Linked DNA regions of Homo sapiens. The protein of the gene in region 3 purifies or fractionates together with the protein of the main gene of each other region. This does not show direct contact. Each region holds a gene or a part of one and is shown on either strand. Other genes may lie near its edges. The genes, in order: DNAAF5, SYMPK, BSG and BTAF1.

Region 1 (7,737 bases), on a different chromosome or scaffold from region 3:
GAGATGGTCTGCATCAGGGGCCCGATCAGAGACTCCGACTGCATGTGGAAGTGGTCTGAGGGACAGGGAGGCCCCCAGTTACCAGAGCTGCTCCCACACGCCTCGCCCAGCTCTGTGGGCTTCCAGAGGACGGCTGCCTGCCTATGAGTTCCTCACCTCCCTTCCTCTCCTACGCCAGGTCCTTGCTGCATGAACAGTACACAATCCAGGCTGCCAAGGAGAGCTCTGTACCGCCCGGCACAGGAAGAGGCTCAGGGACAAGCGTCCCACCCTGATGACACCTGTGCAACCCAGAGGCTTAGGAGGACCAGCGGGGAAAGGCTGGGGGTGCAAACCCATTGTGGCTGAAGACCAGAGAGCCTGGACCTGCTGAAGCCAAGGTGGAGGCCTGACGGGGACACTGGCCAGAGGAAAGAAGCCGAGCCCAGAAGACAGAGGCGAGGCCACACTCCCAGCCCCACCTGAGACGAGACCCCAGGCTCCTCCAGGAAGCTGGGCCAGCACCACTCCAGGCAAAGCCACTGCACTTCCTATTTGTAAAGTCCCCGCAGAAAGTCAGAACAAGAGGTGGCAGGCGCCTGTAATCCCAGCTACTTGGGAGGCTGAGGCAGGAGAATCGCTTGAACTCAGGAGGCGGAGGTTGCAGTGAGCTGAGATCGCCCCACTGCACTCCAGCCTGGGAGACAGAGTGAAACCCTGTCTCAAAAAAAAAAAAAAAAAAAGTCAGAACCAAAGGGTCTCTGGCATCCAGGCCGCCTCTTGCCTCAGCTCTGCACTACTTGGGGCCCGTCTGGGAAACGGCTATTCCAGTGAGACTTTGGGTGAGCGCCTCAACCTCTCTGCCGTTGCCCAGTGTGACCGAGACCAGAGGTGAGGCCCCCCACCCAGGGGAGAGGAAGGCCAGAGGTGCTGGAGATGAGGGGATGCTCCAGGCAGAGGCACAGTCCCTCACCCCACAGCAACCAGTGAGCACATACCCCAGCAGGCTGCGCTTGGGGCTGGGGCACAGATGGGCACAGTGCTGTCCTGTGGAACCTACGGTCCAGGGAGGGAGCTCGTGGGGCTGATGTACAGACTGGGTAGGGAAGTGGTTGAGGATGAAGAAGAAATACATTAAATGCCAGGAATTCTCAATGGCCATGTCCATCCAGCCCAAGGTTCTTCCCCAAGCTCCACAGGAGTTCTGGACCATGTGAAATCCAAAGTTAACCAACGTGGAAATCTCGGCATTTCCCCAAGTCCAGCTCTTCCTCTACTTCTGGAATCTATTCTCCACGCAGCTGCAGTGATCTTTTAACAACCTGAACTCGGGTCTATCACTTCTATTGACACCCCCTGCACTTCCCACTACATTCAGACCATCACTGGGACATCACTGGGACGGCCTGAGCTGGCCAGATCCCTCACTGCTTTCCTGCTCCCTACCGCCCACGGATTTATAGCATCAGTGTTCCCTCCTTCGGAAAGCCTTCCCGCCAGCAGGAAGCAGGCGCCTGCTATCATTCCACATCCCAGCCAGGGGAGGGAAAGGGCAAGACCCTGCAGGAATGGCCAGCTAAGGAAAGGGAACGACCGGATCAGATCAGAGCTCTAAAAAAGATGGGGAACGTTATAAAGTGGAGGGGAGAAGCGGCCTCCTTCCACTTAGGACAGTGGTCCAAGCCAGAGCGGAAAGGCAGGGGAGTAGGATGAATGGGACAGAAAGTGAAATGACCAGAGCAGAGTCTCAAAGCGCGTGCCCTCAACCAGGTGCAAGTCCTGCAAGCCCCCGAGGGAAGGAAAGGGGGCAGCTATCAGGGCACACCCCACCCCAAACCGCCTAACAGGAATTTCTGCGGTGGTTTCCAGGTATCTGGACAGAAGCGCTGGCTCGTGGGCCCGGGTGGGGTGGAGGGGGCTCAGGCAGGGAGGAGGGTGGGAGGTGAGGGTCGCGGGAGGGCGGCGTGCAAGGAGGAGGATGGCACAGGATAGGCAGGTGGAGGGGGCACAGGGAGCAGGCAGGTGGGGGGCGGGGCTTGGGGCGTGGAGGGTGGAGGCGGGGAGCAAGGGGACAGGGGAGTGAGGTGAGTGAGGGCCAAGCAGGAACAGGGGTCACGGGGCAAGGAGCACGTGGCAGCGCAGGAAACAGGTACATGGGGGTAGAGGACAAGGGAGCAGCTGAAGGGCGCGTTGGTGGCGGGACGTGAGGCAGGGGAAGCAGTGGTGGTGGGAGGAGGGGGCCGGGCGGGGTGCTTTGGGGCAGGCGGGTGGGGGAAGCGGCGCATGGGGGGTCCGGGATGTTGGGGGGTGCGGGCGTGGAGGGGGGCGGGGCCGAGCCGCGGGGGTTGTGAGAGGGGCCGCGGAGGTGGAGGTGGGGGTGAGAGTGTGGGGTGGCGTGTGGGAGCGGGGCCCGGGGTGCTCACCGGGCGTGGCCTGCGCCAGGGCGGCGGCGCAGCTGCAGCTCTCGCGGCGCACGGCGGCGAAGGGGTCGAGCAGGGAGCAGCGCAGCGCGCGCAGAGCGTCGTCCAGGTGGGGCGCGAGCGCGGCGCCGCACAGGTCCACGGCCAGGCCCAGCAGCTGCACAAGCGCCAGGCGCAGCTCCTCACAGGCCTCGGGCGGGCGGCGCGCGGGCACGGGGCCGGCCAAGCGCGCGGCGAGCGCGGGCAGCAGGCGCGGCAGGGCATCGCGGGGCCGCGCGGCGCGGCGCAGGCCCAGATCCAGCAGGTGCACTGCCAGCGCGCGGCAGCCCTCGGCGGGGTCGCTCAGGCAGCGCAGCAAGCGCGGCAGCAGTAGGCGCGCCCAGGGGCCCTGGAAAGCGGTGGGGTCGGCGGCAGGGCCTGGCTCCTCCAGCGCGCGCCGCAGGGCCTCCAAGGCGCGCCGCCGGCCCGGCTTGCTGTCGGCCTCCAGCCCCGGCAGCAGGCGGCTCAGGGCGCGGCTCAGCTCCACCGCCTCAGCCGTCTCGGCCCCCTCAGCCGGGTGTGGGGCCGCCACGGCCTCCGCCACCCCCAGCGCCGCCATCTTGCCCGCGTCGCCGGTCACTAAGGGGAACAGCGCTTTCGCGACTCTCAGCGCAGATTACGGCAGCACTTCCGGTCCGCGCTGCGGGCGGGGCGCCGGGCTACTTCCTCCCCGCCGGTGCGCACGTGGGCCTGTGCTCTTGTCGTGCTCGCCCGCTGTCCCCCTCTGTCGCCGGAACCCCCGCCAGCCTGCCTGCTGGGCCTTGTCCTGTCCCCATTGTACAGATGGGGAAGGTCTCGGGAGGGTGCAGCTCGCCCGGGATGCGGGTCCCGGGCTATAGGCCTGGGCCTGCCCCTAGGGAAGCCTGCCCTGCAGCCTAGGGGGCTTGGAGAAGGAACCTGAGTGGTCCCGCCTGGGACCAGGGTAGCCGGGAAGCCCCTGTTTGAGCCGCCTAGAGCCCCTCTGGCTTTGGGAAGGTCCGTTCCAGGAGGGAAGGACGCTGGTTCTGTGGACTGGATCCCCCTGTGGTGTAAGACAGGTGCCTGGTCTGGGCTTCACGTGCAGCCTGTCATTAGATCTCAGGCGTAGCCGCCCAATAGGTTCGCCTTACTCGCTGCCCAGGTAGAGCCAATTTATCAAGACAGGGGAATTGCAATAGAGAGTTTAATGCATGCAGAAACTGGCTGCATGCAGAAACTGGCTGCATGCAGAAACTGGCTAAAGGACACTGGAGCTTTATTGCTCAAACCAGGTTCTGAAAATCCTGAGATGGGTCATCTAAGGATAATTAGGCAGGTAGGGGGCCAGGGAGAGGGCAGTGCTTATTGGTCGGGTTGGAGATGAAACCATGGAGAGTCAAAGTTGATTCTCTTGCTGTCTTCTGTTCCTGGGTGGGATCACAGAACTGGTTGAGCCAGATTAGTGGTGTGGGTGGTGGCACCTGGTGCATCAGAATGCAGAGCCTGAAAAATATCTTGAGCACCAATCTTAGAGTTGATGATAGTGGTGTTATCCTAAGGAGCAACTGGGGAGGTTTGGAATCTTGTGGCCTCTAGCTGCATGACTCAAACCACAATTTCTAATCTTGTGGCTCATGTGTTAGTCTTACAAAAGCATTCTGGTCCCCAGGCAAGAAGGAGGTTGGCTTCAGGAAAGGGCTGTTATCATCTTTGTTTCAAAGTTAAACTATAAACTAAGTTCCTCCTAAAGTTAGCTTGGCCTACTCCCAAGAAATAACAAGGCAGCTTGGAAATTAAAAGCAAGACAGTGTTTCACAGTAGTGACCTTGACTGTGGACTTGAGTGGAGACAGAGGCGCCTAAACAGCTTGGAGTCGGAGTTGCTGTGAGCCCAGCCTAGAACGCGAGTTTGACAGCACTCACTGCAAACCAGGAGTCCCCAAGTCTGGTTAGCCAGGCACTTCTCATCTGTGACCATGCACTGAGTTTTCTAAAGGCAGAATGTGTGTAATTTTAGGACAGAACTTCAAGTTTGACCTTCTTTTTTGTTGTTGATCTTCGTGTTGCAAAATGGTGGTGTTTGTCGGTACGTCTTTTTTTTTTTTTTTTGAGATGGAATCTTGCTCTGTCGCCCAGCCTGGAGTGCAGTGGCGCGATCTCCGCTCACTGCAGACTCTGCCTCCCAGGTTCATGCCATTCTCCTGCCTCAGCCTCCCAAGTAGCTGGGACTGCAGGTGCCCACGACCACGCCCAGCTAATTTTTTGTATTTTTAGTAGAGACGGGGTTTCACTGTGTTAGCCAGGATGGTCTCGATGTCCTGACCTCGTGATCCGCCCGCCTCAGCCTCCCAGAGTGCTGGGATTACAGGCGTGAGCCACCACGCCCGGCCCATCAGTACTTCTGAAAAGTTGTTATGTAGCATATTCAGTAACCTTCATTCATTGTTTCCTCCAACAGGCATTTGTTTGACCAGGCACTGTCTGCAACATGTGGGACAGGATGACAATGATGTAGAAACTGGCCATGGTCCCTGCTCTCCCAGATCTTAGGGTCTTGCAGGATGAGATAGCCCTTAATGGAAGGATAAATTAGTATGTGTTTAACCGTGGTGGTCCTGAGAGAATGAGTGTCAAGGGATGTTGAACTAGACTTTTAAGGCTTCCCTGAACAAATGGTAGCAGAGGTGAAATATGAAGAATAAGTAAACACAGTGTATTAGTCCATTTTCACGCTGCTAATAAAGACATGGCCGAGACTGGGTAACTTATACAGGGAAAGGTTTACTGGACTCACAGTTCCACATGGCTGGGGAGGCCTCACAATGATGGCCGAAGGCGGGAAGGAGCAAGTCACATCTTACATGATGGCAGCAGGCAAAGAGAAAATGAGAGAGCCTGTGCAGGGAAACTCCCCCTTATAAAACCGTCAGATCTCGTGAGACTTATTCACCATCATAGGAACAGCACAGGAAAGACCTGCCCCCATTATTCAGTTACCTCCCACTGGGTCCTTCCCACAACACGTGGGAATTGTGGGAGCTACAATTCAAGATGAGATTTGGGTGGGGACACAGCCAAACCATGTCACATAGCCAGGTGAAAGGGCGGAGGTGGGAGACGGGGAGTGTTGGAGAGAGAGGAAATAGCATGAGCAAAGGCCTCATGGGAGTGTTACGGGCTGAATGGCGTCTCCCCAAAATTCATATGCTGAAGTCCTAACCCCCATAGTTCAGGAAGTGATCCTGTTTGGAGACAAGGTCTTTGCAGACGTGATTGAGGTGAGATGAGGTCATGAGGTTGGGCACTCATCCAATATGACTGCTGTCCTCATAAAAGGAGAAATTTTGGAGATAGACGTGCATACAGGGAGAATGCAGTATGAGCATGAAGAGAGACCTCAAGAGGAGCCAGCCCGTACCCTGATCTTGAGAAATCAAATTTGTTTCATTCAGCTGCCCAGCCTGGTGTGCTTTGTTACGGCAGCCTCAGGTAGCAAACAGGGAGGGAGGCTGACCCTGGTCACAGGGGAGCAGGCAGGGAGTGAGCAGATGGGTGGGGCCAGGCCATGGGGGCCTCTGTCCTAAAACATGGCAGACTGAGGATTTCAAGGTGGGAGCATTGGCAAGATCGAGTCTGCATTTTTCAAGGACCCCTTTGGCTTCCGTTGAACGGATTGGTCGGGAGCCCTGGGAAGGCTGTGGCAGTGAGTGCTGAAGACGAGAAAGAATAAGCGCTTGAATTACGGTGGTGGGACTTCACTTTTCCTTGCTCCTCCCATTGAAATACAACAAAATACCCTGCACATAGCAGGCGACGAGGAAAGGAGCTTGAGAGTTGACAGACGGGCTGGAGACCTCTGGACTGGAGGAATAGCAAGGTGGTGGGTCCCCTGGGTTTTCTTTTTCTCTCATGTGTTCCTGCACTAGTCCCCAGGGAAGCCTGTGGCCCAGAACAGCCAACAGGCACAGACAGAAATTCTCCAAGGAAAGCCTCCTCTCTCTGGCCAAAGCCCTGGGAAAGGGGACGCCCAACAGAGACCTAGAGGGTAGCTGCCACCTTCACCCCACAGTCTGCTTTCAGGGCCGATTTTAAAGCTGCTGCAGGTGCATTAACCTGTGCTGTGCAACTGGGGTTCGAGTGGACAGTCTGCACTGCACAGGTAGTGTCAGAGGAGCCTGAAATCTGCCCTTCCTCTCTTAGCACAAAGAGACCCAGAACGAGCATGTTCTGTCCTGACACAGCAAAAGGTAGCCCAGTGACACCAGGCGGCCCAGGGAGGTACCTTTCACCCCTGCAGGCAGCACCCATGGGAAATGAGCAGCAGTCCCAGGAGAGCCAGAAGAATAAAGCAGACGAGGAGGGCAGTGCCAGGGCTCTGAAGACGAAACTGCTGTTGGAATGACAGACCACAAAAACAGGCTGCAATCTACACCCTGGACCTGAACAGAGCAACTGCCTGGTGGAATAGAGTAGGACAAGGAGTCTGCAAACATCGTAACCCAAATGTCCAGGATACATCTGGAGATCACTTGTCATACCAAGAACAAGGAAAGCCACAACCTGAACATGGTAAGGTAACGGATGTAAATTCCAAGATAGGTCACATGTTGGAATCATCTGCCAAGAATTTTAAAGCAGAGTCATAAGAACCAGCTGGGCGCGGTGGCTCACGCCTGTCATCCCAGCACTTTGTGAGGCCAAGGCGGGCAGATCACCTGAGGTCAGGAGTTTGAAACCAGCCTGGACAACATGGTGAAACCCCATCTCTACTAAAAATACAAAAATTAGCCAGGCGCGGTGGCTCACGCCTGTCATCCCAGCACTTTGTGAGGCCAAGGCAGGCAGATCACCTGTGGTCAGGAGTTTGAAACCAGCCTGGATAACATGGTGAAACCCCATCTCTACTAAAAATAGAAAAATTAGCCAGGTGCAGTGGCTTACGCCTGTCATCCCAGCACTTTGTGAGGCCGAGGCGGGCAGATCACCTGAGGTCAGGAGTTTGAAACCAGCCTGGACAACATGGTGAAACCCCATCTCTACTAAAAATACAAAAATTAGCTGGGTGTGGTGGTGGGTACCTGTAATCCCAGCTACTCGGGGAGGCTGAGGCACGAGAATTGCCTGAACCCAGGAGGTGGAGGTTGTAGTGAGCCAATATCATGCCACCGCACTCCAGCCTGGGTGACAGAGCAAGACTCCATCTCAAAAAAAAAAAAAAAAAAAAAAGGCTGAAAACTCCCCCAATTCAATGAAAAACATAAATCCACAGATTCCAGAAGCTCAACAAGGCTTCATAGGACAAGCCCTCCAAAAACCCCATACTAAGACACATCACAATTAAA
Region 2 (7,452 bases), about 45 Mb from region 3:
AAAAAAAAAAAAGAAAAAATAATCAGTTAATATATATTGAACACGGCCGGGCACGGTGGCTCAAGCCTATAATGCCAGCACTTTGGGAGGCCAAGGCGGGTGGATCACCCGAGGTTAGCAGTTTGAGACCAGTCTGGCCAACATGGTGAAACCTCATCTCTACTAAAAATACAAAAAAATTAGCCAGGCATGGTGGCAGGCACATGTAATCCTAGCTACTCGGGAGGCTGAGGCAGGAGAATCGCTTGAATTTGGGAGGAGGAGGTTGCAGTGAGCCGAGGTCACATCATTGCACTCCAGCGTGGGCAACAAGAGTGAAACTGCGTTTCAAATTAAAAAAAAAAAGAAAAAAAACCCACACACACAGAGAGAGAAAGAGAAAGAGAGAGAGAGAACACTTAATATGTGCTAAGCACAATTCTAAGATATACATATTAACTCATTTAAACCTCAGACACCAAGGTTTAAATGAATTAATATGTATATATTAGAATTAATATACATGAGTTAGGTTTACATTTTTTGTTTTTTTGAGACAGGGTGTCACTCTGTTGCCCAAGCTGGAGTGCAGTGCCGCAATCTCAGCTCACCGCAATCTCTGCCTCCCGGGCTCAGGCGATCCTCCTACCTCATTTTCCCAAGTAGCTGAGACTACAGGCGAATCCCCATTTAATTTTTGTACTTTCTGTAGAGAAGGGTTTCGCCATGTTGCCCAGGCTGGGAGTTAGTATTTTTAATTTTCATTTTACAGATGAGGAAACTGAAGACCAGGGAGGTAAAGTGACCTGACCAAAGGCATATAGCTTGTAAGAGGCAGAGTCAGCAGCATGGCTGCATATCTTCCTTACCACTATGCTACAGTACTGTTTATCTGAAAGGAATTGTTTTTTACCCCCAGGTCTGTTTACGTAAGCCAAGGATCCTGGCCACCAGACAACCGGCATGGCATGCCGTCCCCAGTCAAAACATAAAAAAAACAGGCCGGGCATGGTGGCTCACACCTGTAATCCCAACACCACTGCACTCCAGCCTGGGCGACAGAATGAGACTCTGCCTCAAAAAATAAAATAAAATAAAATAAAACCCCATAATAAACATTTCCACTTTTTTCATGATAATACATTCAGATCAACCAAAATATTTTACCCTGTTTCATTCTTCTTCTGCTTTTTGGTTTATGCTTTCAGTTTTGTTTTGTTCTTTTTTAAACACACATACACAAAATTCTCCTGCAGGAGCTAGATTTTATGCAAAAAAAGGAAAAAAAATGAAAATAAAAAAACCCATATATACATATTTCCCTTTCATTTACAAAAAGAGCATACACAGGGCCGGGAGCGGTGACTCACGCCTGTAATCCCAGCACTTCGGGAGGCGGAGGCAGGTGGATCACGAGGTCAGGAGTTCAAGACCAGCCTGACCAACATGGTGAAACCCCATCTCTACTAAAAATACAAAAATTAGCCAGGCGTGGTGGTGTGCCTGTAATCCCAGCTACCTGGGAGGCTGAGGCAGGCGAATTGCTTGAACCTGGAAGGCAGAGGTTGCAGTGAGCCGAGATCACGCCACTGCACTCCAGCCTGGGTGACAGAGTGAGACTCTGTCTCAAAAAAAAAAAAAAGGAGCCTACACAGGCCGAGTTTGGTGGCTCAGGCCTGTAATCCCTGCACTTTGGAAGGCTGAGGTGGGCAGATCACTTGAGGTCAGGAGTTCAAGACCAGCCTGGCCAACACAGAGAAACCCCGTCTCTACTAAAAATATAAAAATTACCTGGGTGTGGTGGGGCACGTTTGTAATCCCAGCTACTCGAGAGGCTGGGGTGGGAGAATCACTTGAACCAGGGAGGTGGAGGTTGCAGTGAACTGGGATCGTGCCAGCCTGGGCGACAGAGTGAGACCCTGTCTCAAAAAAAAAAAAAAAGAAAAAGCATATACAATAAACACCAACCTCCACTTCACTTGTTTTCCCTTAATATATGTTGGAGGCCACTATATCAGTGTATAGAGATTTTCATCATTTCCTTTTATCTACCTCATTCCTTTTTAGAGTTGCATAGTATTTTTTATGTGGATGTATTATAGTTTCTTTCAGCCAATCTTCTTATTTAAGAACATTTGGGATGCGTGTAGCCTTTTGCTATGATGAACAGTATCACTGTTTCCCCTTCCCTCTCGATGTACTCGTTAAGAAGTGGTACCCTGCCCCACTGCTACCTAGGAATCTGATGACTACCCTGTTTCCCCAAACTGGCTCTAGGAGTATCTTTTATTCCTTCAACGAACATTAGCTGGGCGTCTCCGGCGTGATTGGCGCTGTGCTGAGAACACAGTGGCGACAGAGACAAACCTAGTCCCTACCTTCATGGAACACACGGTCATAGACATCATAAAACAGCACACAGATAAGAGTCGGATAACAAATTAGACCACACGTGACATGAAGGAACACGGACCGACAAAAGCATTTAACAGGCGGATTTCTGGATGGAGGGCAGGGAAGGAGGGCTTCGCAGAGGAAGTGACGTTGGTGCCGAGACCCGAAGGATGAAATGGGAGTTAGCCAAGCCGAATGGGTAAAAGGATGTTGCAGGCAGAAGGGACAGCCTGTGCAAAATCCCCGAAGCGGGAAAGCGCATGGCAAGTTTAAGGAACCGAAAGGCCAGGGCGGCTGTTAGAGGTGGGGGAAAAAGCAAAGAGGCCGAGTCGAAGCAAGCGAGGTCTGCGGGGCGGTGGCGCCCGGGGGGCCACGTTGGAACTTTGCCTCGAGGGCACTAGGGAGCCAAGGAAGGGTCCTGAGCAAGGGAAGAAACATGGGTCGCGAAAGCCACTGTTCCCCTCTCCCCACGGCGATGCCCTCCCCGCCCGAGCCCCTGCTTCTTTAGGAGCCTCCTCCTTTCGTCTCCGGGCCCAAACGCCGCCTCCCGCTCACCGCAGCTCTGGCCTCCGTTCCCCTCGCGCCCCCTCAGCAGTGCCTCTTCCTACACTCCGCCGCCGCCGCCGCCGCCATCTTCCGTTCGTCGCCGGGAACGGTGCGCACGCGCCACACACCCAGGGCCGCCGGGAAATGGAGTCCAGAGCACAGCCCGACCCCGCCCATGCCTCGTCCCGTGCGAGCGGCATTCTGCCCGCCTCCATACTACGGCGAGCAGACCCTTCATTTCCGGCTCTGGGTCCGGCTAGGCCTTCTGGGAAATGTAGTCCCTTCGGAGGCACCGGGCGGAAAGGGAGCTAGAGCATTCTGGGAAATGGAGTTCTCAGTGGTGCTGAGTCCCTGGACGGCTGGCTGGTCTTGGAGAGTGCGGAGTTCGGGCAGCGAAGCTCCTGGGTCTTGGAGGGGAGGTGGTCTGTTGCCCTAGTGGGGTCTGCGGAGAGGCCCCGATCCCCTCCATCTTTGTTCTTGACCCTTTCAACAGTCTGAAGCATTTCTTTTTCTTTTCTTTTCTTTCTTTCTTTTTTTTTGGAAACGGAGTCCCGCTCTCTCTCCCAGGCTGGACTGCAGTGGCGCGATCTCGGCTCACTGCAACCTCCGCTTCCTAGGTTCAAACGATTCTCCTGCCTCAGCCTCCCGAATAGCTGGGATAACAGGCACGCACCATCACGCCTAGCTAGTTGTTGTATTTTTAATAGAGATGGGGTTTCACCCTGTTGGCCAGGCTGGTCTCAAACTCCTGACCTCAAGTGATTCGTCCGCCCGCCTCGGCCTCCTGCAGTGCTGGAATTACAGGCGTGAGCCACCGCGCCCGGCCAAGTTAAGCATTTCTAGCCGTCGGAAGCCTCAGTCTTCCTGTCTGTCCAATGGGGATGTGATTTCGGGGACCTTTTACGGGTCCTTGTAGTCGCATAGTGGCCCTAGCGTTCTGATTCCCCTTTCTTCCGCCACGGTCATGCAGGGCTCTGGCTCTTCGTCCTCTCCTGCCGAGATGATGAAGCCCCCTGAGGTAGAAAGGCTCCAGAGTTCTGACCTCGGGGCCCTTGGTATCTGCAGCGTCGCTGCGGGCAGCTCCCTCACTCCTGAATCACCCCCAGCTGTCGCGTCCTGGGGCTGCGGCCCCCGGCGCCTGAGGTCTGTCTCCTGGCGATCCCGCAGGGGGCGCCCCAGTCCGAGCGCGCCGCCCTCGGGGAGGCGGGAGGGGAGCCCGGGGCGGGCGAGGGCGGGGGTGTCCCGGCTATAAAGCGTGGCCGCCTCCCGCGGCGCTCGGGACAGCCGTACCCCGGGCGGTCGGACGGGCGGGCGCCGGTGGGAGCTCGGGCCGTGCCCGCTGAGAGATCCAGAGCGCTCCGTTCCCCCGGGGCCGGAGCGGGGGCGGGTGGGGGCGTAAGCCCGGGGGATGCTGGGCTCAGTGAAGATGGAGGCCCATGACCTGGCCGAGTGGAGCTACTACCCGGAGGCGGGCGAGGTGTGTCCTCGGGGATGGCGGAGCGGGAAGTTGGGGGCAGGTATCGGGGTGTGGGCTCACATGGAGCAGGGACTGGTTGTGGGTTCAAATGGAGGCAAAGGCGTCTACTTGGGCAGCTGAGGAACTGGGAACACGGAGACCAGGTGTGGAAGTCGGGGACCGGGGACGAGGCATGGATGGGAGCGCTGTTTGGGCAGCCTCGCCGCGGCCAGGGCTTAAAAATGGAAGTCAGGAAAATTTAGCCAAGGGTCGGGTCACACCTTAAACTTGGGAGCCGGGTGTTGGAGCCCCAAAAAGCAAGGGATTTATATGTACAAACCAAAGATAGGAATCAGAGTTCCAGGGTAGGGGACAGACTAGGGGGTTTCAGGATGTGAGGTTCAAAGTTGGAGGGAAAGAAAGACTAAAAGATGGAGGAGGAGTCACCATTAAGGGGAAGACTGAGGTGGGAGCTCAGGGCCAGCACACAGTGTTAAAGAACCGGGGTTCGGGGCTAAGGATCAGCTGGTAATCTAAGGTAGGGTCAGACATAGGGATTGGTGCTCAGGGGTCAGAGATGGGGGTGCTCAGAGATGAAGCTTCGTTTTTGGAGTCTGAAATAACAGGTGGCTTAGAGTTGGGCATCTGGGAGCAGAAGATGTAGCCATCAGCATTGGCAGGAGAGGGGCCGATCTCCACCCCCCCATCCCTACCCATGACCCTCCGCAGGGACTCCCCAAGTCGGAAGATGGAGAGTTTTAGATTGTGCACCTTCCCCTGCTCCCCGCCAGTCCAGCAACCTCCAGCTATTGCTAAAATTCCCATCCAGTCTCACCTCAGACAAGGCTTCCCTGGAGTGGGGGGTGGCGGCATATTCTAATCCCCTCACCTGGACAGACAGAAAGTCCTTCCTCAAGTCTGACCCCCATTCGTCTTGCTGCAACGACCCCTACACCTTAGCTACCTCACTCTGTAATCAACGTTGTGAGGTTGTTGGGGCTGGGGGTTGGGTTCTTGGTCTGAGAATTATGGGGGTCTGGACACTTGGACTTCTAACCTGGAAGGGGACTGTGGGCTTGAGGTGGGGTGTGGGGCAGGAATGGCTAGGTTCTCCAAGGAGTCAAGATCTGGTGACTGCGGGGGCCCCAGTGTGCCTGAGTCTTGGGTCTGGGGCTCGAAACTGTAGGGTGGGACTCCTGGATCCCCAGGCCTTCAGGGCTGGGCAAGGTGCCTGGGAAGGGCCAGTCCTGGGTTTGGGGAGGTGTGAGGTGCACGTGGGGTGGGGCAGGGCCAACAGGGAAAGGGACTGGGAGTGTTGAGAGGTGGAGGCAGGGTGGCTGGAGGTATCAGTTGTGAGATGCGGAAGGCAGAGACCCAGGTGGGAAATGGAGGGTTCCAGGTAGTGGGGGTGATCCCAGCTGGACCTCTGCAGAACTCAGTCTGGGGACCTGATTTAAGGGAACCACCTACAGACCAATTGTACAAACCAACTACAGTTGTTTTGGGGGCACATCTTAAGTAAATGATGGGGGTCTAGGCAGGAGGAGTTGATATTTGGGGCACAGTCTGAATAGATCCAAGTTTAGGGGACAATTTGTATGGAAATTGTGTCAGAAATTGAAGGAAAGCCGGCACAGTGGCTCACACTTGTAATCCCAGCACTTTGGGAGGTCGAAGTGGGAGGATCTCTTGAGCCCAGGAGTTTGAGGCCAGCCTGGGCAACATAGGGAGACCTTGTCTTTAAAAAAAAAATTTTTTTTTAATTAGTCAGGCATGCCTGTAGTCTAAGCTACTTGGTTGGGAGGCTGAGGTGGGAGGATCACTTGAGGCTGGGAGTTCGAGCTGCCGGGAGCTGTGATCGTATCACGGCACTCCAGCCTGGGTGACAGAATGAGACCCTATCTCAAAAAATAATAATAGTAGAGGGACAGTCTGGAGGTAATCAGCATTTCAGGGCATATTTTGGGAGAGTCAGTATTTGGAGGAATGGAAATGGTTGGGTGATACTGTCTGAGGCTCTCCCCAGCCTTCCCATCAGATAAGCCCACCTCTTCCCCTTGGGTCAGAACAATGGGGAGAGAAATACCTACACTCAGCCAGCAACTGAGAGCTGAGAGGGTCCCCAAACCACTTCTTGCCCATAGCACCCTCCCGCTTGGGGTGACGTTAACACTCAGGGCAGCTTGCTGTCTGGAAAGAACTTGGAAAGTTACCATCCTGGGATATCCCTGTTGGCCTCAGGTTCTTGCAGATCAGCTGGTCCAGCTGCTCCCCTGTTTTAGAGGTGGTTAACTCTGAAGCCCCGCACGCAGAACACTGGGGTCCTGGGTTGGGTCTGGGACTAGAAACTTGGCTTCTGGCTTCACACTGCCTTCCTCTGCTCCCTGTCACACCCTTCTCCAGAGACAATAAGGAAATGAAAGAGGAGAAATTCCAGTCTCCTGGTGTGGGGGTGCGGGTCCCCCAAGGGCTTCCCCCCAATCTCAGCCCCACCCTGTCAGGGGAGATCCGGCTCAGACCCGGACACCAGGGGTTCATCCCAGCCCCGGGGCGTGGGAAAGCCTAGGGTGGATTAGGGCAGCTGGAGTGCTTGAGGTCGGACCTCAAGGAGGACTTCCGGGTGGGTGGGGAGCCAGAAAGGAGGGCCCTGGGGTCCCTGTCTGTCTTACTCTGCAATACCAGAGAGCCTGACTGGGTTGCAGAAATGGGGGGTGGAGGTATAGGGGGATTTGGAAACTCTGTGGACCCCTCTAATCCATCACCTTCTCACCTCATCCCTTTTCTTTTTCTGGGGAGGGGACCCGAAGCCACCAACCAGCGGGAGAGCCTGCATGGGGGAAGGGAGTAACTGTGGCTGCAATTTCACTGTAAGACTTGGGGTGAGGGGGAATGGATTTGTTGAAGGGAGGGAGATAGATAGATAGATAGATAGATAGATAGATAGATAGATAGATGCATGGATGGATGGATAGATAGATTGATAGGAAGATGGTGGCTCGTCATGGTAGCTCATGACTGTAATCCCAGCACTTTGGGAGGCCGAAGAGGGTGGATCACTTGAGGTCAGGAGTTCAAGA
Region 3 (7,020 bases):
CCTGGCTCAGGAGGAGCTCCCGCCCACCGCACCTGCCTCAGGAAGAGTTCCTCTGGCGGACGTTCTTGCCTTTGTCATTCTGGTGCTGCCCGCTGCTCTTCCTGGGGCACGAGGGGCCGGGTGAGAGGGTGTCCCCCGCAAGTCACTCTCTCCAAGTCACCCCTGCCCACCCCGGCCCCCAGGACCCCCGAATACTGAAGCCCAGGGGCTCTGCCTTTGTGTTTTAAAGGCCTGGGGCAGCAGGCCGCTCCTTGGGACCCCCGACCCCCACAGCTGGAACTTACAGGGGTGCAGAGCCGGCGTCGTCATCTGAAGAAGGACCGCCGCCATGAAAAAGAGGACGAGAGGACAGCCTGTCAGCACTGGCCCCACTCAGGCCCCGAGCAGGGGCATCTGTGCTGCCAGCCCTGCCCTCAGTGACCCCCAGGGGTGGCTCGGGGCAGCTCATCAGCCCCGGCCACGTGCATCTTCTGAGTGCTGTGGGGAAAGGCAGCCCTCCCCACCTGCAGGTGTGCTCCCCATGGTGAGCTGTCCCCATGGCCTCGTGGGCCTCACCCCTGCCCCACAGCGTTTTCCAGGAGCTGCCATCACAGGCCCCACACAGGCCTCGCCCCGGCACACGCAGCCCAAGGGGCAGAAGGGCTCCGCGAGGAGGCAGGCAGGGGCTGCCGGAGCACAGCATGGCTGACCTCAGGTTCCCGAGCCTGATCATGCAGAGCAGCAAGGGCCGGCTCACCACGGAGGACACTGGCTTGCAGCCAAGTGAGCGGGAGGGAAGGGCCGGGTGAGGCTGTGGGGCGGAGGTGCCGCCTCCTCCTCCCGGGGTCCCGCTGCCCACTGAGCCGCAGCTGCCCGGGGCTAGACCCTCCATCCCACACTTTCTTTCGGGGTCCCATCAACTCCCTGCCTGGGGCTCCTCAGTTCCAAGCTCTGGGTCAGCGGTGGGGCTGGCAGGGACGGACCAGGAGTGGCCCTGGGCCACCCCGAGAGCAGGGCATGTGGGCAGGAGGGCAGACGGCTCACCATCCAGGACGTCCTCGGGCTTCCGGCGCTTCTCGTAGATGAAGATGATGGTGACCAGCACCAGCACCTCAGCCACGATGCCCAGGAAGGGCCAGAGGGCGGCCAGGTGGCTGCGCACGCGGAGCGTGATGATGGCCTGGTCGGAGCCCTTGGAGCTGGTGCCGTTGCACCGGTACTGGCCGGGGTCGGCCTCCATGTTCAGGTTCTCAATGTGTAGCTCTGACCGGCCCTGCGAGGAACTCACGAAGAACCTGCTCTCGGAGCCGTTCATGAGGGCCTAGGGGACCAAAGGCAAGGGCTGAGTCCAGGACCCCCAGTCTAGGCCCCTCACCCAGTCCTGAGGGCTGAGTCCGGGACCCCCAGTCTAGGCCCCTCACCCAGTCCGGAGGGCTGAGTCCGGGACCCCCAGTCTAGGCCCCTCACCCAGTCCGGAGGGCTGGGTCCGGGACCCCCAGTCTAGGCCCCTCACCCAGTCCTGAGGGCTGGGTCCGGGACCCCCAGTCTAGGCCCCTCACCCAGTCTGGAGGGCTGCAGTCCAGAGGGCTGGGTCCGGGACCCCCAGTCTAGGCCCCTCACCCAGTCCGGAGGGCTGGGTCCGGGACCCCCAGTCTAGGCCCCTCACCCAGTCCGGAGGGCTGGGTCCGGGACCCCCAGTCTAGGCCCCTCACCCAGTCCTGAGGGCTGGGTCCGGGACCCCCAGTCTAGGCCCCTCACCCAGTCCTGAGGGCTGGGTCCGGGACCCCCAGTCTAGGCCTCTCACCCAGTCCTGAGGGCTGGGTCCAGGACCCCCAGCCTCCTTGGCTTCTCACCTTGTCCTCAGAGTCAGTGATCTTGTACCAGGCCCAGTCAGTGACAGGTGGCACGGACTCTGACTTGCAGACCAGCATGGCCGTCTCCCCCTCGTTGATGTGTTCTGACGACTTCACAGCCTTCACTCTGGGAGGCCCTGACAGGAGGGTGAGAGAGAGGAGCCTGGAACCGCAGGCCCGCCCCCATCCCCGGCCTCCCGCAGGAGGGCTGTTCCCCTCCAGGGAGCAGGGGGCCAGGGCTCTGGGATGTGCCGGGTGCCTCAGGCCAACAACTTCTCCCGACAGTCGGTGGTGCCCGGTACCCCTGGCTGCAGGACTCACCGTGGAGCTGGATGTTGGCCGTGCCCATGGGCTCGGGGAGGAAGACGCAGGAGTACTCTCCCCACTGGTCGTCGGAGTCCACCCTGCAACCACAGCAGGCAGGTGAGCCGCGTACCAGCTCTGCAGGACGCCTCCAAGGACCCAGGGTTCTCCAGGGGCCCAACCACGGCACAGTGAAAAAGCAAAACTGTCCCAGTCAAGTCTGAACCTCAAAAGAACTCCTGGGGTCCCCGTGCGGCCCCAAGGACAGAGCCAGGCTGGCAAGACCCCACAGGTGAGAGAACCAACAGACCCCCTTCTCCCCGACTGATGAACCCCACACCTCTGGTCCCTGCTCTGCACCCCACACCCTGTGACCGTCTTCCCAGTCAGCCTGAAAACAAAAGGCTCTGTGCTCCCAGGGCCGTCCCAGCCCCAGTTATGACAAAGCTCCGGCCATGACAGCGTCTGGGGTCCGAGCAGGGCATGCCTCAGTGTGGTGCCCTCTTGTGCCAGGAGCACAGAGCCTGGGAGGCCCGCACACGTGCCCGGGACCTGGCAGTGTGGCGCCCTTTCGTGCCCGGGACCTAGTGAGGAGCAAGCAATGGGGACTCCTGCCAGGGCTGCTGGAGCCCCCTGCCTCACAAGGACGCCCCTCAGACCCCTCCCTGGGGTTTCCCTCTGGGGGTCTGCGCGGAGCTGGTCCCTAACTTCCGCCTGGATCAAGCCTGCCGACCGGTCTTTTGTTCTCACGGACCACAGGCCGCTGGCGGCAAGAGAGCCGTGAGAAGGGGCAGGTGGCGGCATGGCGTGGTCAGGCACTCACTTGAACTCCGTTTTCTGGCCGGGCAGCGCGTCCTCCTTCAGCACCACGCCCCCCTTCAGCCAGCGGTGCCCTGTGACCTCTGTGGCGCTGTCATTCAAGGAGCAGGTGAGGAGTATCTTGGAGCCAAGGTCTTCTACGGTAGTGAAGACTGTGCCGGCTGCAAGGCCCGGCGAGACGCGGTCAGCAGAGTGGAGGAGCACGGCCCGCGCTGCCTGCCTGACCCCCAGGAACCTGCGGCTCCTCCCCGGGAAGGACTGGTTTTCATCCCAAAAATACACCGTGGCCCTTACGCCCCGAGGACCGGAGGCCCAAGGGGAACTTCTGGCCACGCCTCCGGGAAGGGAAGAGCCCAGCGCCTGCTGAGGAGGCCCCTTCGGGAAGGCACCCCCTTCGGGAAGGCACCCTTCGCTGGCAGCTGGCGGGCCCTGGGCTAAGGCGCTGGGAACCCAGAGGCCCCGCCTGGCGATGTTCCTGCCCAGAGACACACGAGGCTGGGACCAGGGTGTGGGGACAGACAAGGCACCCACCCACGTCCCTGAGCAGGGACCAGGGCATCGAGCTCTTGTAGCAGCCCCAGCACAAACTGGAAATTCTTTTCTAAAAACGTAGCCAGCTGGGCGCGGTGGTGGCCGGGCGCGGAGGCTCACGCCTGTAATCCCAGCACTTTGGGAGGCCAAGGCGGGTGGATCTCGAGGTCGGGAGATCGAGACCATCCTGGCTAACACGGTGAAACCCCGTCTCTTCTAAAAATACAAAAAATTAGCTGGGCATGTTGGCTCATGCCTGTAATCCCAGCTACTCAGGAGGCTGAGGCAGAAGAATCGCTTGAACCCGGGAGGCGGAAGTTGCAGTGAGCCGAGATTGTGCCACCACACTCCACCTGGGAACAGCAAGACTCCATCTCCAGGAAAAAAAAAAAAAATAGCCACAGCACCCCCGGCCAAGGCTCCCGTGCCCTTCTCTAGGAGGCACTCAGGTGGCCCCACATCCCCCCAGCCCCAGGCTGACGGCACTCCAGCAGTGCTGGGAGCACCCCGGTTCTTCTGCCAATCCCCAACCAAGCAAATCTCTTGGTTCTTGGTTAGTTTACAATATTCCCGCTAGGAATTGAAATTTGAAAATCCCTTAGAACGAGATGCTGCGAAGGACACAGAAGGTTCTGAGACCTGCAAGCCTGGGCTGAGCTTGGAGGGCCCCTCAGGCTTGCAGTATGGACGCTCAGGGAGGGAGCCGGGCAGGCGCCCGGGGAAGCAGAAACGACGGAACGGATGGCACGAGGGTCGAGGGGAGGACGAGGACCCACCTGCTGGAGGGCAGAGCCCTGCCTGCCCCGAGCCAGGCCGCCCAGCGCTGGTGGTCAGGCGGCGAGCCCACCCCCTTCAGGTCCGGGCCCCTCCGTCCAGGCGGTGGGCCCAACGGGGCACAGCGGGACGGAGAGGGGAGGAGGCGTCTGGGTTCTACTGAGCAGGAGCCGGGAGGCGAGCGGCACAGGAGGGAAACTGAGGGAGGCGGGGAGGGAGGTGCCCGCCACTCACGTTCCAGGACTAGCACGACTGCCTGGGCGCGGACCCACTTGACCCTGGGCGCCCGGGTCAGGTGGTTGCGATCCGGGTCGTTGCTGGCCCGGCACTCGTAAGTGCCCGTGTCCTCCTCCACGAGCGTGTCGATGGAGATGGTGCTGGCCGCGTGCTGGTGGTAGGTGGCGTGGATGTGGACGCGGTCCAGCCGGGCGCCGTCCCAGAGCTGGGAGCAGGTGTCGTTGGGACCCTGCCCTTCAAACCACCACTGGATCTCGGGCACCGGGCTGCCCACGGCCTCGCAGTGCAGCTCCACACTGCCCCCCACCCACCTCTGCTGGGACAGCGGCGCCTGGACGAAGCCGGCTGTGGGGAGAGCACGCGTGGGGTCTTGTTAGTGCCTGGGGCACTTGGGAGGGCAGCTCCTGGGGAAGGCCTCGCCCACAGGACTCCCAGCCAGGGCTGGTGGAGAAGCCACTTCCTTTCAGCTTGTGGGAGAGTGATGGGGCCCGGCTGGAAACAGCATGGCATGGGAAAGACCGTGGGCGTCCCGTCCACTGCTACCTCACGGCAGCCACGGCGGCTTCTGAGGGCACAACTGTGGGACCACACGTGGTTTCAAAACACAAAACACATGAAACTGGGCAGAAGAGCCAGGAGTCCTGAGCCCCGAGGGCTGCCCAGAGCTCAGGTCCCAAGCGCACCGTCCTCTGACTTCTGCCCGATACCCTGACCCCAGAGACCCGGGTGAGCTGCTGAGAAAAACAAACCCCAAAGCCCAAAGGGGCAGGCGGCCTCTGTCCAGAAGCCCCTAGCCCGGCTCCGTTAGGACAGCCCGTGGGTGGAAAGCTCGTGTCCTCAGCAATCTCTGAGGGCGGCGACCCAGAGAGAGGCGGATTTGGGAAGCTGGGAGCCAGGCAGGGCCTCAGGGCCTCTCACCTCCAGCCACACGCCTCCCCTTCCTTCGAAATGCAAGGGAAGGCCCCCAGAGCTGCCAAGGAGCACAGCAGAATCCACACAGAACCTCACACTGTGCCTAGCACTCGCCTGCCAGGAACAGCCCAGCCCAAGGGGAAGCGTGGGGAGTGCCTCCTCCCGCCAGGACCTTGCAGCCCTCCCCACAGCACCTTCTGAGGTCAGACTCCCCAGGCACCGCTACAACACACACACACACACAAGGACACACGTCTGCAAACACACACAACACATACACACGTGCATATGCGTGCACACGGCTCCGAGGCTGCGTGGCAGTGCACAGGTCACGGCCCCCAAGGCCACGGGGACAGGAATGTTCACGTCTGAGCACCTCAGGTGAGCTCTGGGCAGGCGCAGTTGACAAGTTTTGGCAGCGCCATTTTCTTTCTCCTCTTCTTCTTTTTTTTTTTTTTGAGACAGAGTCTCACTCTGTTCAGCAGTGGTGTAATCTCAGCTCACCGCAACCTCTGCCTCCCGGGTTCAAGCAATTCTCCTGCCTCAGCCTCCCAAGTAGCTGGGATTACAGGTGCCTGCCACCACACTCAGCTAATATTTTGTATTTTTAGTAGAGACGGGGTTTCACCATTTTGGCCAGGCTGGTATTGAACCCCTGACCTCGTGATCCACCCTCTTGGGCCTCCCAAAGTGCTGGGATTACAGGCGTGAGCCACCGCGCCTGGCTGGCAGTGCCATTTTCACAAAGGGATCTCCTCCTGGTAACCTACATTTCTTGGGAGTTAAGATTTCCCAGACTGCAACACTGGCAGCTATGTGCAGAGCTGGGCGAGGTGAGTCAGGGCAGGAAGCACAGCCAGAGGCTGCCCAGCTGGCAAGCTCCTTCCTGCCCTGCAGCAGCCCCTCTCCTCATCCTCCAGACCTGCAGGGCTGGGCTCCACATCCTCCTCACCCAGGGGTGCTAGGAGAGGGCTGGCCCCTGACTCACCTCACCCCACCTCCAGGCAGGGCAGGGCACACAGGAAAGTGAGGAGGACCAGGTGGGGCCCGCAGCCGAGCTGCCCCCAGCCACCTTTCCAGGAGTCCCGGGCTCCCAGGCGCCATCTGCACCGGTCCCGGTGCTCCCGCTGGGTCCGCCAGCTTCTCAGCGGGCAGCATCGCTCCCAAAGGGACCAAAAGGCTTTGGATGGAACAACCCTGTGTCCCTCCGGATGCTGATGATGCTGGTGTCTGTGTATTGACGTGTCACTGGGGGTGGGGGGGCGTCCGGAAGAGAAAGCCTCCATAGAGGCTCCTCGGGGACAATGCAGAGCGCCCCCACCCCACGGACCACCCCATCTCGCCCGCCGCACCAGGAGCCTCCACCCATGAGCAGCAGGAGGAGGGACGGCGCCTGACCCTCGGCCACAGCCCCAGAAAGGTTAGAATTCGATTCTGGCCACATGAGACGTAACCCATGTTCTCAAGTAAAGTCACCTTCATCTAAAAACAGCCTCCGCCTCCTTGCCCAGGGCTCAGGGCCAGGCAGGCCGCGTGGTACTTGTACACAAGCAGCCCCGCAGGATAAGGCTGCCCGCCCCCACCCGCCCTCCTCCCCACCCACCCCAGTGCT
Region 4 (7,020 bases), on a different chromosome or scaffold from region 3:
ATCTTGAACAAGTGTTTAAAATATTATTTCCTCATCATACACAATTTAATCCATATAAATCAAGGTTCCATCTTTCTACACCAAAATACCACACCTGAAGGTCACCAATGAACTCTTAGGCTCCAAATCCAATAGTTTTTTACAAGGTCAATTTTTCTTGACTCTTCTTTGACAGCTGCGACCAGCAAGCACCCCATTCTTACAATACTTTCCTTCCTAAGTTGCACATTATATTACCCTGTTCTCCAAACTCTTCTTTCCTTAGTTCTCCTATTCTTAATACTCTTAATATGAATATCGGGAGAATACTCATATTCAATCCTTGACTGCTCAACTCTCATCAGTTTCTCCCTGAGGAAACTGTATACTGTTATTTGTTTAAATTATATCCAGAACAAATATTCCCCAAATCCAGGCCATCTGAGAGTGCCAGTTTCACACTCCCAACTGCCTTGTCATCCTGTTGCCAGATTAACTTCCTAAAACGCCCCCGAATAAATCACTACCTTACTTTAAAACTTTCAATGGCTCACACTTACCTACCAGAAAGTAATCCAAAACAAAAAGTATCTCCCAAATGTGGGTATTTTTGGTTTCCACAATTTTACCTATACTGTTTCCTCCACTCAGAATGTCTCTCACACCCCTTCAAGCTAGGGTTACAGTGGCTCACCCCTCCTCAAGGGGGTGGTTTCCTGGCCAGTTTCTGCCAGATCCCCAGAATGGTCACTGGTTGGGGTTGCAGTGGGTATGTACTCTGCCTCACTGCAACAGCAGGCAGCTGTGCAGATATAATGGCCCCATGTGTGAGACTGGGAACTGTTGGTGGGAGGCACAGCTGAGAATATGGGTATATCACCTGGAATTTAACCAGATACACCACTAGAGGTGATCTTCGGGTGTGCCTGAGCTTGCTTCTCTAACAAGAGAATAAAATGTGCTACAGCAAACAAATAAAGTATTTTTCTCTTTGTTCAACTGTTCAGCTAGCTCCCATCCAACAGGATTCAGCTGAAGTTCTTCACCTTCTTGAAACCATTTCAAACTACTATGCAACAGAGATTACTTCCTTTTCTGAAATCCACATGAATTCTCATCTTGAACAGCTACTTAAGTATTTATTATATTTTTTTGTGGCATCTCTCACATTAATTTGTCACATGAGGTCTAATTTTCCTCATTAGGCTTCATCTCCTTCAATCATTCTTTTTGTCTCGCACAACACTTTGCACAGTATTCAAATATTTGTTATGTAGTTGACATTTACTGTAACTAAAACTATACTTAAGGAAAAGTTCAAGTTTCTTGGGGACAAGTTTAAGAACCAACTTTAAGGAAAGAAAAAATATTTTATATTACCTTTTTTTTTCCTGCTTCCTTTGAGAAACATCCTTAATCTGTGACAGCAGTTTTACATAAAAAATCAGTTGGTAATGTAATGTTTCAGTAACTGAAAAGATCAGCACAGCAGTACTTCAGCCTTCTGAATGAGGCAGTTACGCTTGTCCCAAATAGCAAGCTGAAAAATGCCATGCAATAGGCACTGTATTCCTTCAATAATTTCCATCCTTCTTAAACTTTTCCTTTGGTCCTCTGCTACCCAGCTTCACTTAGAACTCCTGCCCAAAGACCTTAGACTCCTCTCTAACCTAATTGCTGATACTGTCCCACAGACACACAGTTCCTCTTGATTCTCCTTTTTGCAGATCCTTTTATCCCAATGCTATGTCAGGTCACCTCTGCTCTCCCACCAGCCAAATGCCCTGAGGGTAGCAGATCAGCTCATTCTCTCATCCATTCCAAGCCTGTTTATCCTTACTTCTTCCACTTTGGATGGTAACCAAAATTGCCTCCCTGAATAGAGGAATGGAGACACAAGAATGCTTCTTTGATTCTCTTGATTTAAAGCCACTTTCGTAGTTCTCCATTCCTCTCTTCAGGACAGCAGATTGGACACCACATAAAAGGAAGAACAAAGAGATGAGCAGACAAAGATCTGACAAGAGGGCAGTCTGACCTGTTATCTCAGGATAGCCAGCTATGAGGCAAGCAGGGTAAGCATCAGGGCCAGGCCACGGTGGAAAAGGCTGGTACAGTGAACTTGTGGGGAAGAGGAAAAGAACGTGAGACAGAGTCAGTATTATGTTGGAGGGTAGACAGGGCCCTTGGTGAGGGAGAGGTCTGAAGGAAGCTAGATGGTCAGAAGAGAAGGGAAAGTTAAAAGGAGGGCTGACTGAGGGAACACAGTACTTACTCCCATACTACTTTTGGCTAAAACTTCTGTTGCACACAGCTAGCAGGAAAAAGTAACATTCTTCATTCTCTGAAGGATAGACAGACAGATGGAGGAGACACAGGTAACAGATGTCAAGTTGCATGGAAGGTACCAAAGACTATAGAAGATAAGTAAAACATAAGAAAATTATATTTTGTAATATCCACTGGTTATAAATTTATTGAGAATAAGAAATCTGGCCCATTTTCAATCTGGATGTCAATTCCGAGAATTAGCTAAACAAGATATGATTCATGTAACCTGTGATTTCAGGCAACTGTTCTAAAGACTGCCTAGAAAAAGGAAAGAGTACATAGTAGTAGAGGTTATGCTAGCAGTTGCAATCTAACCCCTCTCCTCTCCAGATGTTTGCATTATGTTAATTCATAACAGTAAAGCCATAAAAATAAACAGAAAGAAATGTCATGCATTTTAAACAATAAAACATGTCCTAGATTACTACGTCATAGTTAATAAACAAATACATACTGTATTTCCACTCTAAAACATCTCGGGAGGGGAGGGGCAAAAAGCCTCACTGATATTTTCAAAATATATTTAACCTCTCTGATAAATTAGGAAAGGTCAACTGACAGAATACCTCAAAAAGACAGCTTTGTGGCCTTAACTAAAAAAGCATGACCAGTCAAGAGTAGCCATTTAGTTATACATTTTTTACACGTGGCAAAAGTACAGTAAAATTTTAAATATAGATGATTTGAATGTTTACTTTTCTGTGTTACTCAGGAAGTAAGGAAAGATAATGACCATTACTTAGTATAGTGTACAGTGTGTACTTAATACGTGGAACTTAGTACAGTGCACATATTATCATTAAGGTCAAAAGAAACAACTTCCAACAAATTCTCTAGTGTTTTTAAACATATACTTTCTAGGTCATGTTGTGGGTAATTTGAAACTATGTTAATGTTATGTTGTTTTAAACATAAAGATATCACACAGAACACTAAGAATCAATATGAAGGTGTGAAACCATACCAAAGCCAGGTGTAAGGGCAGGTGCTTGCTAGATAAGTTACCCCACTCTACCCTGGACCATAAACTCCATGAGAATGGAGAGTACAGTTTTTTTCTCTGCTATACCTCTAGCACCTATAACATAGAAAGCACTCAGTAAATATTGGTTAAATGAAGAATGGTGAAAATGTACAACCAAGCTATGCTATTTCCTTCAAGACATTTTTTTCTACCCTCCATCCCTGATCGAACAACCTATAGCCTCTTGCATGACTTTATCTTAATGACAAAACATAGTACATACTAATCTAGGTTCTTTAGCAGCAGTATGGGTGGTTTTAAAACTTCTTATTAATACATATTATGTATTAATATGTAAAATTCATAATACATTTTAAAGTGTATTTTTAAATGGTTAGAACAGTCTATTTTTATGTGTGTCACAATTAAAAAATTTTTAAAATAATAATTCAAACTAGTACCTTGAGAAATACGCCAAAGAAATAAGGAGGAATTTACCATTGGGATTGAAATGGAAAAGCTTTGATTAATGCCTCTTCTACTTTTTCTAGTTTATCTCTAAATTTTTAAAGTATGAGATATTTGATGAATTATAATTTACAATAGTTCCTTCTGTCATCTTATAATGGATTGAAATTAACAATAAGGGCCAGGTGAGGTGGCTCATGCTTGTAATCCCAGCATTTGGGAGGCCAATGCGGGAGGAATGCTTGAGGCAAGAGTTTAAGACCACCCTGGCCAACACAGAGAGACCTCATCTCTATTAAAAAAAAATTATTAAAAATAAATTAACAGGGAGGAATAGGCCTGGAAAACCTGTGTTGTCCTTTATTGGTAATTAAGGTAGTTTTTTCTACATTAACATTTTCCTGTCCAGGACCCACTGAACGTCCCCTACATCAAGAAACTTCCTTTTATTTGACAGAATAGGCCTGTTGAAACAATGTTGCTCTGAAGTATCAACAGTGCAAAGAGAAAATTAACAAAATTGAGCAAAGGTCTGCTATATGTAGCAATTTGTTTCTTCCACAAGAGGATGTGTTTTTGTTTTTTCTGAACCCTTTCTGAACACTGTAACATTTTCAAATGCAAAGATATGTGAGAAATCTAAGGTATGGCTTTTAAAACAGTCATATTATAAGTACTGTCTAGACATTTTAGACATGACCTTTACAGCACAGATCGCTGAGGGAAAACTATATATTTCTGAAACTTTCTCTAGCTGATTAAGGAAAAACTATGTTCCTATTAACTAGCCAATATACAATGATCAGTTCCATTAATTGTGGCATAAACAGGCAAAGGTAGCAAAAACAAGCTGTTTAAAAAATTGTATTAAGTCATGGTTCCCAACACAGCTACAGATTCCCCACCAATGAATAAACCTAAACCAGGCGCAGTGGCTCACACCAGTAATCCCAGCACTTTAGGGGCAAAGCCACGTGGATCACTGGAGCCCAGGAGTTTGCAACCAGCCTGGGCAACATGATGAAACCCCACTTCTACAAAATATACAAAAAAAATTAGCCAGGCATGGTGGTATGCATCTGTGGTCCTAGCAACTGGGGAGGCTGAGGTGGGAGGATCACTTGAGGCCGTGATTGTGCCACTGCACTCCAGCTTTCCAGCTTGGAGGACAGAGTGAGACTCTGCCTCCAAAAACAAACAAACAAACAAACAACAAAAATGCCAAAGAAATCCATCTCAGGTTGCTTTTTTTGGGGGGCGGGGGGGGGGGGGATGGATTCTTGCTCTGTTGCCCAGGCTGGAGTGCAGTGCTGCGATCGCAAAGGTTGCTTTTACCGTTGGTGGCAAAATCCCAACTAAGTAACACATGATAATGAGAAAAAGCCCCATAAAGCAAAATAATGGTGTTCAAAAATATAACACTTATTATTTAAATTATTCACAAGAAACACTGAAAGCCTGTAACATACACTAATTTGTTTTTTGCTGAGGTTGACTTTGTGGAAGCAAGTCAAGTAGCTAGTGAATGACTAGCTGACTTTCCGGCATCCGCATCTTAAGGACAACATTGTTCTCTACTCCTACATTTGGATTTTGGGTCTTTTACTAAGGGTTTAAAAGAGTCATATCATTTTCCAGTGATATTTCACTGGATTTGACAGAGAACTTCAAATGCTATGATTGTATTTACAATTTTAGAGAGTAACAAAGTTATTTTTGCAAGATGTAATTCAGCTACAGATCAAGAGTTGGCCATGCATTTCATAATCTGCCACATTCTTACAACTGAAAGTACAGTAAAACCAAGCCTATTAAGCAGGGTCTAAAAAATTTGACCACATAAAATACATCATATCAATTTTGCATTATAAATGGCCATGCTATCACAGAATTTACTATATTATAAACTTCAAAAATTATTCTAATTGCCTTCCTATAGGAGATAGCTTTAAAAAGAAAAAAATATTCCGATGATTGTTAAAATTAGAAAATGGCCAATATTAAAAAGCTATAGTGAAAGTTTTCCTTACTGCAAAAAAAAAAAAAAAAAAAGAAAAAAGGCAGTTAAACTCAAAAGTACTCACTGAAAAACACTGGAAATAGTCTACTATGCACAAATTACGGTAAAATCATACTCCTACAAATGTAGGAGTAGAGAACAATGTTGTCCCTAAGATGCGGATGCTGGAAAGTCAGCTAGTCATTCACTAGTTACTTGACTTGCTTCCACAAAGTCAACCTCAGCAAAAAACAAATTAGTATATGTTACAGGCTTTCAGTGTTTCTTGTGAATAATTTAAATAATAATTGTTATATCTTTGAATACCATTATTTTGCTTTATGAGGCAACTCATATGGCAACTCAAAAGGTACCAAAGCAAGAAGCAAAATCATTCATTCATTTTTTTTTTAAATGTACTGAACACCCACTAGGAGCCAGGCATTCTGAGCATGGAAAAATCAAAGACACATTTCCTTCTCTCAGAGTTTATGTTAATCCAGCAAGTAAGAGAACAATTAACCAATTACAAAATATAAATATTATGACTGATAGGAATATGTATTGGTGCAAATAGCTCAGATGAAGTAAAACCAGAGAAAATGTCCTGAACAAGGTAATATATAAGCTTAGATCAAAAAATTGAGGCAGGTGGATCGCCTGAAGTCAGGAGTTCGAGGCCAGCCTGACCAACATGGAGAAACCCCATCTCTACTAAAAATACAAAATTAGCCGGGTGTGGTGGTGCATGCCTGTAATCCCAGCTACTCGGGAGGCTGAGGCAGGAGAATCGTTTGAACCCGGGAGGTGGAGGTTATGGTGAGTCAAGAACGCACCATTGCACTCCAGCGTGGGCAACAAGAGCAAAACTCTGTCTCAAAAAAAAAAAAAATCAAACAAAAAAACACACTAAGGTCAGAACTAGCCATACCTGAGATGGGGCTAAGAAGTGTTCCAAAGATAAACAGTAGGGGGTAACAAAATGAATTCTGGGGAGGGTGGAGGATAGAAGAGAGAAGAAGGTGAAGGGGAAGTACAGAGAAGTTGACACAAGATGAATCTAAAAAGATGACACAGGAACCAGATCACAAAGGACTTGGTAAGATATGTTTGTTTGAGAATGTGGACTTTATCCTAAGGCAATAGGAAACAACTAAAGGTATTAATTAGAAAGATTACCATGTTCATGTTCAAATCTTCAAATCAGTAAATAATATGACTGAAGCGAAGAACAGATTGAAATGAGATGCCATGGAAGGCAGGAAAAGGAGAGAGGCTC

Evidence for each region.
Region 1: the proteins of BSG (region 3) and DNAAF5 purify together in Homo sapiens (affinity purification with mass spectrometry; 4 studies listed by BioGRID and IntAct, with this or other methods). This does not show direct contact.
Region 2: the proteins of BSG (region 3) and SYMPK purify together in Homo sapiens (co-immunoprecipitation; 5 studies listed by BioGRID and IntAct, with this or other methods). This does not show direct contact.
Region 4: the proteins of BSG (region 3) and BTAF1 purify together in Homo sapiens (affinity purification with mass spectrometry; 4 studies listed by BioGRID and IntAct, with this or other methods). This does not show direct contact.

Annotation. Positions count from the first base shown.
Region 1 is NC_000007.14:721,981-729,717, reverse strand, and holds the start of DNAAF5 (dynein axonemal assembly factor 5), read right to left. Parts: upstream 3,020-7,737; 5' UTR 2,998-3,019; coding exon 2,403-2,997; intron 2,129-2,402; exon of another isoform or gene 2,042-2,128; intron 1,849-2,041; exon of another isoform or gene 784-1,848; intron 56-783; coding exon 1-55. UniProt on the Homo sapiens protein: Cytoplasmic protein involved in the delivery of the dynein machinery to the motile cilium.
Region 2 is NC_000019.10:45,860,130-45,867,581, forward strand, and holds the start of SYMPK (symplekin), read right to left. Parts: upstream 3,019-7,452; 5' UTR 2,929-3,018; intron 1,899-2,928; exon of another isoform or gene 1,771-1,898; intron 1-1,770. Other genes in the region: FOXA3 (hepatocyte nuclear factor 3-gamma), read left to right, coding at 4,328-4,396. UniProt on the Homo sapiens protein: Scaffold protein that functions as a component of a multimolecular complex involved in histone mRNA 3'-end processing. Specific component of the tight junction (TJ) plaque, but might not be an exclusively junctional component. May have a house-keeping rule.
Region 3 is NC_000019.10:575,595-582,614, reverse strand, and holds part of BSG (basigin isoform 1 precursor), read right to left. Parts: intron 4,842-7,020; coding exon 4,494-4,841; intron 3,116-4,493; coding exon 2,959-3,115; intron 2,237-2,958; coding exon 2,154-2,236; intron 1,970-2,153; coding exon 1,833-1,969; intron 1,301-1,832; coding exon 1,024-1,300; intron 310-1,023; coding exon 285-309; intron 102-284; coding exon 38-101; 3' UTR 33-37; intron 1-32.
Region 4 is NC_000010.11:91,926,755-91,933,774, reverse strand, and holds part of BTAF1 (TATA-binding protein-associated factor 172), read right to left. Parts: intron 2,394-7,020; exon of another isoform or gene 2,255-2,393; intron 1-2,254. UniProt on the Homo sapiens protein: Regulates transcription in association with TATA binding protein (TBP). Removes TBP from the TATA box in an ATP-dependent manner.